2 linked regions of the Homo sapiens genome follow. The protein of the gene in region 1 interacts with the protein of each later gene in a pairwise test. Each region holds a gene or a part of one and is shown on either strand. Other genes may lie near its edges.

Region 1 (3,736 bases):
CCTGGCTCCTAGCCGAGGTCCTGCCTGAGTCCCAACTCGGTGCCTCCTTTGTGTTCTGGGCATGTTGCACATCCTCCTTCTCTGTAAAAGGGGCTCATGAACCCCCTAAGGTGCTTCTAGCCCTGGGATTCCACAGGATGAGCAGCATCTTAAAATCCCTAGATGGGAGCGTGGCTGGCCCTGCCCCCTGCTGGCCACACGGCTCACTTGCTCTAACTGTACGTGGCTGAAGGCAAGAAAGGTCAGCCCCTCCCTGCCCCACCACAGACCCGTGGGATCAAGGGTCGGCGGCAAATATGCAGGATCTTTTGAGACCATCTCCAAGACTGGCTCTGAGACTCCTCAGGCCTTGCCAAAGCAGGAAGGGATGGAGTGACAGCAGCAGCAGCCAGGGAAGAGGAGACTTCAGAAAGGGAAACTGAGGCTCAAGGGGTTAAGTAATTTGCCCAAAATCATGCAGTTAGAAGCAACTGACATGCCTTCCAAATTCGGCCTGCCAGACCCTGAAGCCCACGCGAGTGAGGTCATAACCCCTAGTGGAAGGCACAGGAGCTGGCATTGTCAACAGTGAGCTCTCTGCACCGCAGTCCCCTCTCTGTCACTTGAGGGCTGAGCTGGGATGTAGACCAAGGAATCTCCAAGGTCCCTGCCAACTTGAACCTTCTGGGATTCTTACTCATCAGCCTACATTCTGGATTCTGCGTCCCACCCACAATATCATGATCTCTCTGGGGCTGCAGCCCAGGGCCTGCAATCCAGCCCCCAACAACGCCTTCCTCAGACAGAGCACCACTTACTTGCATGTTGGTAGTCATGTGTACAAAGCCATGCATGCTCTTGAAGTCCTTTCTGGAACAACAAGTCAGAATAGAAATAAAGAGAAATGCATGTTTGTTAAAAATGTCCATCTGATTCTATCAAGCCCTTACTTCAACCCATTAGGAGCTCTCATTGCCTCCAACTTCTTTGTCTAGATTCTACTTCTATTTATACCCCGGGACTCATTTCAGACTTTGACTTCTCAGGGAGCATCCTCGGAGCCCCCAGCCAATTAATGCCTCCTTCTGTACTACTGCTACCAGCCATTGAACAGCTACACTGTTCCAGACATTACCTCTTGTTTTATTCTCATGGCAACCCACATACCAAAGCCTGTGTGGCCTTCACAGTTGGTGTGGAAGGTGGCCCCACACTCAGAGGCTCACCTTCTCTGAGCTTAAGGTCTGAGCTACACTGCTTGGCCAGCAATCCTTTCTCTTAGGTGTGACTTGGCTTCTTTAAGCTCAAGAGCTTGCCTCTGTTCCCTTGCAGCTGTGCCCAGAACTCCAAGCCCAGCCACTTCCCCAACTGTGCAGGGCAGGCAACCAGCTTTAGGGAGGAGGTGGGTAGATGGCATGGTGGGGACAGACCCAGGGGCAGCTAATGGAGCTGGGCTTGTCTGTTCCTCAGGCCCCGGGAGAGATGACTCAGCTGCCAGTGATCAAAGCAGAGCCTCTGGAGGTGAACCAGTTCCTCAAAGTGACACCGGGTAGGTGTGTCCAGGGGAAGGGCTCTTTTCCCCTCCAGTCATAGGCAGATAGCATCCCCACTTCCTTGGTTCAGCCCATCCCTATCTCTTGACAACCTTCCCCCACCCAGAATATCCTCTCCACCCTGCCCTACCCACTGTCCCTCCATCCATGCCCACTCTTCGTCTAGTCCTCTTCGTTTTTGTTTTTTGTTTGTTTGTTTGTTTGTTTGTTTTTTGAGATGGAGTCTCACTCTGTCACCCAGGCTGGAGTACCATGGCACGATCTCAGCTCACTGCAACCTCCCCATCCCAGGTTCAAGCAATTCTCCTGTCTCAGCCTCCTAAGTACCTGGGATTACAGGTGCCCACCACCACGCCTGGCTAATTTTTGTATTTTTTAGTAGAGACGGGGTTTGGCCATATTGGTCAGGCTGGTCTTGAACTCCTGACTCAGGGGATCCACCTGTCTCAGCCTCCCAAAGTGCTGTGATTACAGGGGTGAGCCACTGCACCCAGCCTTCGTCCAGTCCTCTTCTTGCCCAATCTACTGCTGCCATCGCTCCTGCTTGCCCAGCCTGACCCTATGAGAGAGAGGCCCCAGTCACCTTCTGGGGTTGCTGAGCTAGAGCTTAGTGATCTTCTGGAGTTGCTGAGCTTAAGGCCCTGAACCCTGTGAAGTCAGAGGTCACAGAGGACCTCCCACGAATTCAGCTCCTATGATGTCTATGCCAAGGGCGAGCTTGTAAAGGAGCTGGGCCTCTGTGGTGTCAGATGAGGCAGCACCCAGGAATTGGCTACCCAGATGTCAACTGTCTTTCTGACCCTGCAGAGGGGCTTCTGATGTCATAGCTGAGACCAAGCGCCTGGCAGTCCGTGTCCCACAATGTCAGGGCTGGTGCAAGCTCATGCTCAGCTGAACTCATGATGTCCAAGTGGAGCTGATGTGCAACGTTGCTAACTCGGTTTCCCCTGCTCTCCCCAGAGGACCTGGTGCAGATGCCTCCGACGCCCCCCAGCAGCCATGGCAGTGACAGCGACGGCTCCCAGAGTCCCCGCTCTCTGCCCCCCTCCAGCCCTGTCAGGCCCATGGCGCGCTCCTCCACGGCCATCTCCACCTCCCCACTCCTCACTGCCCCTCACGTAAGGAGCTGGGGGTGGGCTGATCCCAGAAATGAGGAATTGAATACATCCACCTGAGCACACTGGCCAGTCAGGAGGGTTTGGGGAGCCCCGAGACTGATCCCCACCCTCATCAGAATTCAGAGGGATGCTTACCTGGCAGATGGGAGTTCTAATCCTTTTATTTTTGAGTCTTGCTCTGTTGCCCAGGCTGGAGTGCAGTGGCTCAATCTCGGCTCACTGAAACATCTGCCTCCCAGGTTCAAGCAATTCTCCTGTCTCAGCCTCCCAAGTAGCTGGAATTACAGGCACTTGCCACCGTGTCTGGCTTTTTTTTGTTTGTTTTTTTTTTTTGAGATGGAGTCTCGCTCTGTCGCCTGGAGTGCAGTGGCACGATCTCGGCTCACTGCAACCTCCACCTCCAGGGTTCAAGTGATTCTCCTGCCTCAGCCTCCCGAGTAGCTGGTATTACAGGTGCACACCACCACCCAGCTAATTTATGTACTTTTAGTAGAGACAGCATTTCACCATGTTGGCCAAGCTGGTCTCAATCTCTTGACCTCTTGATCTGCCCACTTCAGCCTCCCAAAGGGCTGGGATTACAGGCGTGAGCCACCGCATCTGGTCAGGAATTCAAATCCTTTCGCCCTGCCTCATGGTGAACAGGAGACTATTGCAGAGCCAGGACTAGAACTTGACATTCCTGACCTCCAGGGGATGACCCAGGCTGCCTCCAAGGAGCGCTGTGTGAGGGGAAGTGCCCAGATGGTCCAGAATCCCCAGGAAACATGGAGCTAGGCCCTGAGCCCTGGGATGGGTGTGGAGTCTCCCAAGCCAAGATTGTAGGGAGGGGTCTGAGGGAGATGCTGTTTGGGGCACCCTGGACAAGTAAGCTTTGAGGGTGCAGTCTCAGGGATGGGATCCAGGAAGCCCTCCCGAACAATGCACTAAGAGCCTAACACCTGAGCTCTCAGCATGGCCCTGGCACCTGACACATGTTACTGAATTTCACCCAGATCCACTCCCTTTCCAGATGAGGAAACTGAGGCATAGAGCATTGTGTGCCTTGCCCAGGTCATATAGATAGCACATGGCAGAGCTTGAATT
Region 2 (3,500 bases), on another chromosome or scaffold:
CCAGACTCACCCTATTTTCATCCATCCAGTGCCTGGGGCCAGATAAATATTCCTAAAGTGATGTTTCCCCAAGATGTTTATTTATTTTTTTAATTTTATTTTTTTTGAGACGGAGTCTTGCTCTGCCGCTAGGTTGGAGTGCAGTGCATGATCTCAGCTCACTGCAACCTCCGCCTCCCGGGTTCAAGAGATTCTCCTGCCTCAGCCTCCCGAGTAGCTGGGACTACTACTCTCAACACCATGGTGATGTGACTGGGACTACTACTCGCATGGATGTGCATCACCATGCCGGGCTAATTTTTGTATTTTTAGTAGACACAGGGTTTCACCATGTTGGCCAGGCTGGTCTCGATCTCTTGACCTCATGATCCACCCGCCTCGGCCTCCCAAGGTGCTGGGATTACAGGCCTGAGCCACCGTGCCCAGCGGATGTTTACATTTTTTAAAGGGGGGTAGGGAGGAATTCTCTGGTCAAATAACTTTGGAAACCACAGGTGAAACCTATCTTTACTGGGCTTACTTCCTAGAGCCTGAAGGATGTTGCTGTGCATTGTGGGACTGGGCATGTAGTGTTTCCCAAACTCATTTGACATTTAAACCCCTCCTTTGAAAATTAATGTTCCTCAGAACATGCTTTGGGAACTGTTCTATAAAGCCTTGCTATCCAAAGTGTGGTCTGGGGACCAGCAGCATCAACTTCACTTGGGAGCTTGTTAGAATTGCAGACTCTTGGGCCCTTCCCCAGACCTACTAAGTTTAGCATCTGCATTTATAATATACCTGGGTGATACATTAAAGTTAGAGCCTCTAAAGTATCAAATTCTGAGGGTGTTCACTGTCACAGAATAAAACCCAAACTCCCAGCTGGGCATCTGTGGCCTTCCATGACCTGGTTCCATCTGCCTCCCCAGCCCCATTTTCTACCTGTGCTGCACCAAGAGGCAGCCTTTGATGGAAGCTCTTGGAGATGCCTTTTTAAACGGAGCTGTCCCAACACCACCCCTGGCCCACCTTGGCCCAGTGGATCTTGGGAATTTTTTTTTAATTATTTTTTATTAGAGATAGAGTCTCATTATATTGTCCAGGCTGGCCTCGAACTCCTGGGCTCAAGTGATCCTCCTGCCTTGGCCTCCCAAAGTGTTGAGATTACAAGTGTGACCCACCATGCCCAGCCCAGGGCCGTTTATTTTGTAAAAGCTCTCCAGATGGAGCCATTACCTAGCCAGACATGGGACCCCTGGAGACACCCTATTCTTTAGCTGGAAAGGGCTGATGCTTCATTAATGCCTGTCCATGGAATACTGGGTATTTGACCTATTCCTTGACCAAAGACTCATTTTTCTCATCTGCAAAATGCAGGATAATACTATTTCATAGGGTTATTTTAGAATTAACTGAGATAATAGCTAAATCATCACTTGCTGTAGATAGTTGCTGACTTAACAATGGTTCAATTTATTATGATGGTTTTATTGGTAAGTAACCCATCGTAAGTAAGCATCTGTAGAGGTTACTTACTGTTTTTTGTTGGTTTGTTTTTTTGAGACAGGGTTTTGCTCTGTCATCCAGGCTGGAATGTGTGGCTTAATTATAGCTCACGCAGCCTCAACCTCCCAGGCCCAAGTGATACTCCCACTCAGCTTCCCAAGTAGCTGGGACTACAGGTGCACGCCAGCATACTTGGCTAATTTTTGTATTTTTTTTGTAGACAGATCTCGCTGTGTTGCCAAGGCTGATCTTGAACTCCTGGACTCAAGTTGTCCTCCTACCCTCAGCCTCCCAAAGTGTTGGGATTACAGATGTGAGCCACCGCGTTCAGCCTACTTATTGCCATTTTGATTATTTGGGATCCCAGAGGAGATGAAGATGCCACTGCGGGACAAACTAGTAGGCCACCAGATGGTTGAATTAGAAGTACTGTGCCCAGATGCCGGGGGCAATGGCTTACATCTGTAATCCCAGCACTTTGGGAGGCTAAGGTAGGGGGACTGCTTGAGGCCAGGAGTTCAAGACCAGCCTGGGCAACATAGCAAGACCCTGTTTCTACAAAAAATAAAACACTTAGCTGGGCGTGGCATGTGCCCGTGGTCCTAGCTACTCAGGAGGCTGAAGTGGAAGGATCCCCTGAGCCCAGGAGTTTAAGGCCACAGGGAGCTATGATCATGTCACTGTACTCCAACCTGGATGACAGAGTGAGATCCGACCTCAAAAAAAGAAAAAAAAAAAAATGCTGTGCCCATGGCTTGCCACTCTGGCAATACTTACAATGTTTACTGTGGTTGCTGAGATTGACTGGCAGGTCTGTACCTACCCATCTGTGTCCCCAACAATCCTGGCATCCCTGATTGAGGAAGAAGGGGAGGAAAGGAGCTGGGGACAGGGCAGACCACATACCTGGTTGTTTTTCCCTTTTTGATGACATTTGCTTTGCATCTCTGGGGAGGCTTCCCAGTGGATCTAGTGGAGGCAAAGGGAATAGGCTGATGCACTGACCCCAATACCTATTACTCATAGGACCAGGCAATAGGACCCCACAGAGTTGGGGAAATTGGGGTGGGGATCAATTTCAGGAGGAACACTGAATGCAAGGAACACCTGGGCTGGGAAGGGCAGTGCTGTCTGACCAGGGGGCTATGGAAGGCTGGCAGGGTTTTAAGGAAGTTGAGGTCCCAGGGAGCTGGATAAGCATAGAGACCCTCTGGGTGGTCCAGGTTCCAGGGCCTGACCTCTTTGTGAGCCCCATCTCCTATGTCGTTGGCACTGAGAGAGAACAGGGCACCTCGGGCTCCCACCAGCAGCCTTGCTGAGGCCTCCTCCAGCAGCAGTGTTGAGTAGTTCTGGGCTTGGCCCTTGAAGTGCCGGGTCCCAGAGAGCTCTGGGGAGAGCAGGAACAGTGAGCCCTAGTTCTGGGGTGCCTCCCCACCCCCAGCCCTGGCTTCTGCTGCCTTTTGAGGTTGAGGGTCTAACCTTCATAGGGTATGGTCATCCGAGGGGTGGCATCTAGTTCTCTAGACGGTCTCCGCAGTGAGGGTCCTGGGACTGCAGTTGCTGTGAGGATGCTGAGGAGGAGGGGCCAGAGCCTCCCCCACATCTTCCTGGGGAGGCCCAGACTAACAAGACCCCCAAAGGGAGCCAGAGTCACAGGTTGTGGGGGCGGGGAATGGGAAGCACAGTCACAGGGGTCAAAGTCCAAGGAAGTCACTTGGAAGGTCAGGGGTCATAAGGTCATAGGAGTCAAGGAATCATGGGGCCATGGGGGGTCCTGGAATCGGGGGGACATGGAGTCACAGGGTTGTGTGGCCATGGAATCCCCAGCTAAGAGGTCAGAAGGAGGGAGGGATCACATGCCTTTCTGCATCAAATGCAAACTCCATGGTGAGAGGGAGTTGTGAAGTTCTAGAGGGGTTGTAGGTTACTGATGGGGTCACCCTGCCCCCGACAGTAGAGCTAGTCCTGGTTTTCTGAGGTCCGTTTTCTGAAGAAAAAACGGGGAAAAAAAA

Evidence for each region.
Region 2: the proteins of CREB3L1 (region 1) and SEMA4G interact in binary tests that used the Homo sapiens proteins (3 or more experiments, as listed by UniProt).

What each region holds. Positions count from the first base shown.
Region 1 is NC_000011.10:46,308,540-46,312,275, forward strand, and holds part of CREB3L1 (cyclic AMP-responsive element-binding protein 3-like protein 1), read left to right. Parts: intron 1-1,449; coding exon 1,450-1,528; intron 1,529-2,492; coding exon 2,493-2,650; intron 2,651-3,736.
Region 2 is NC_000010.11:100,972,504-100,976,003, reverse strand, and holds part of SEMA4G (semaphorin-4G isoform 1 precursor), read right to left. Parts: intron 3,476-3,500; 5' UTR 3,092-3,475; coding exon 2,968-3,091; intron 2,876-2,967; coding exon 2,727-2,875; intron 2,458-2,726; coding exon 2,395-2,457; intron 1,020-2,394; exon of another isoform or gene 920-1,019; intron 1-919. UniProt on the Homo sapiens protein: Cell surface receptor for PLXNB2. May play a role in axon guidance.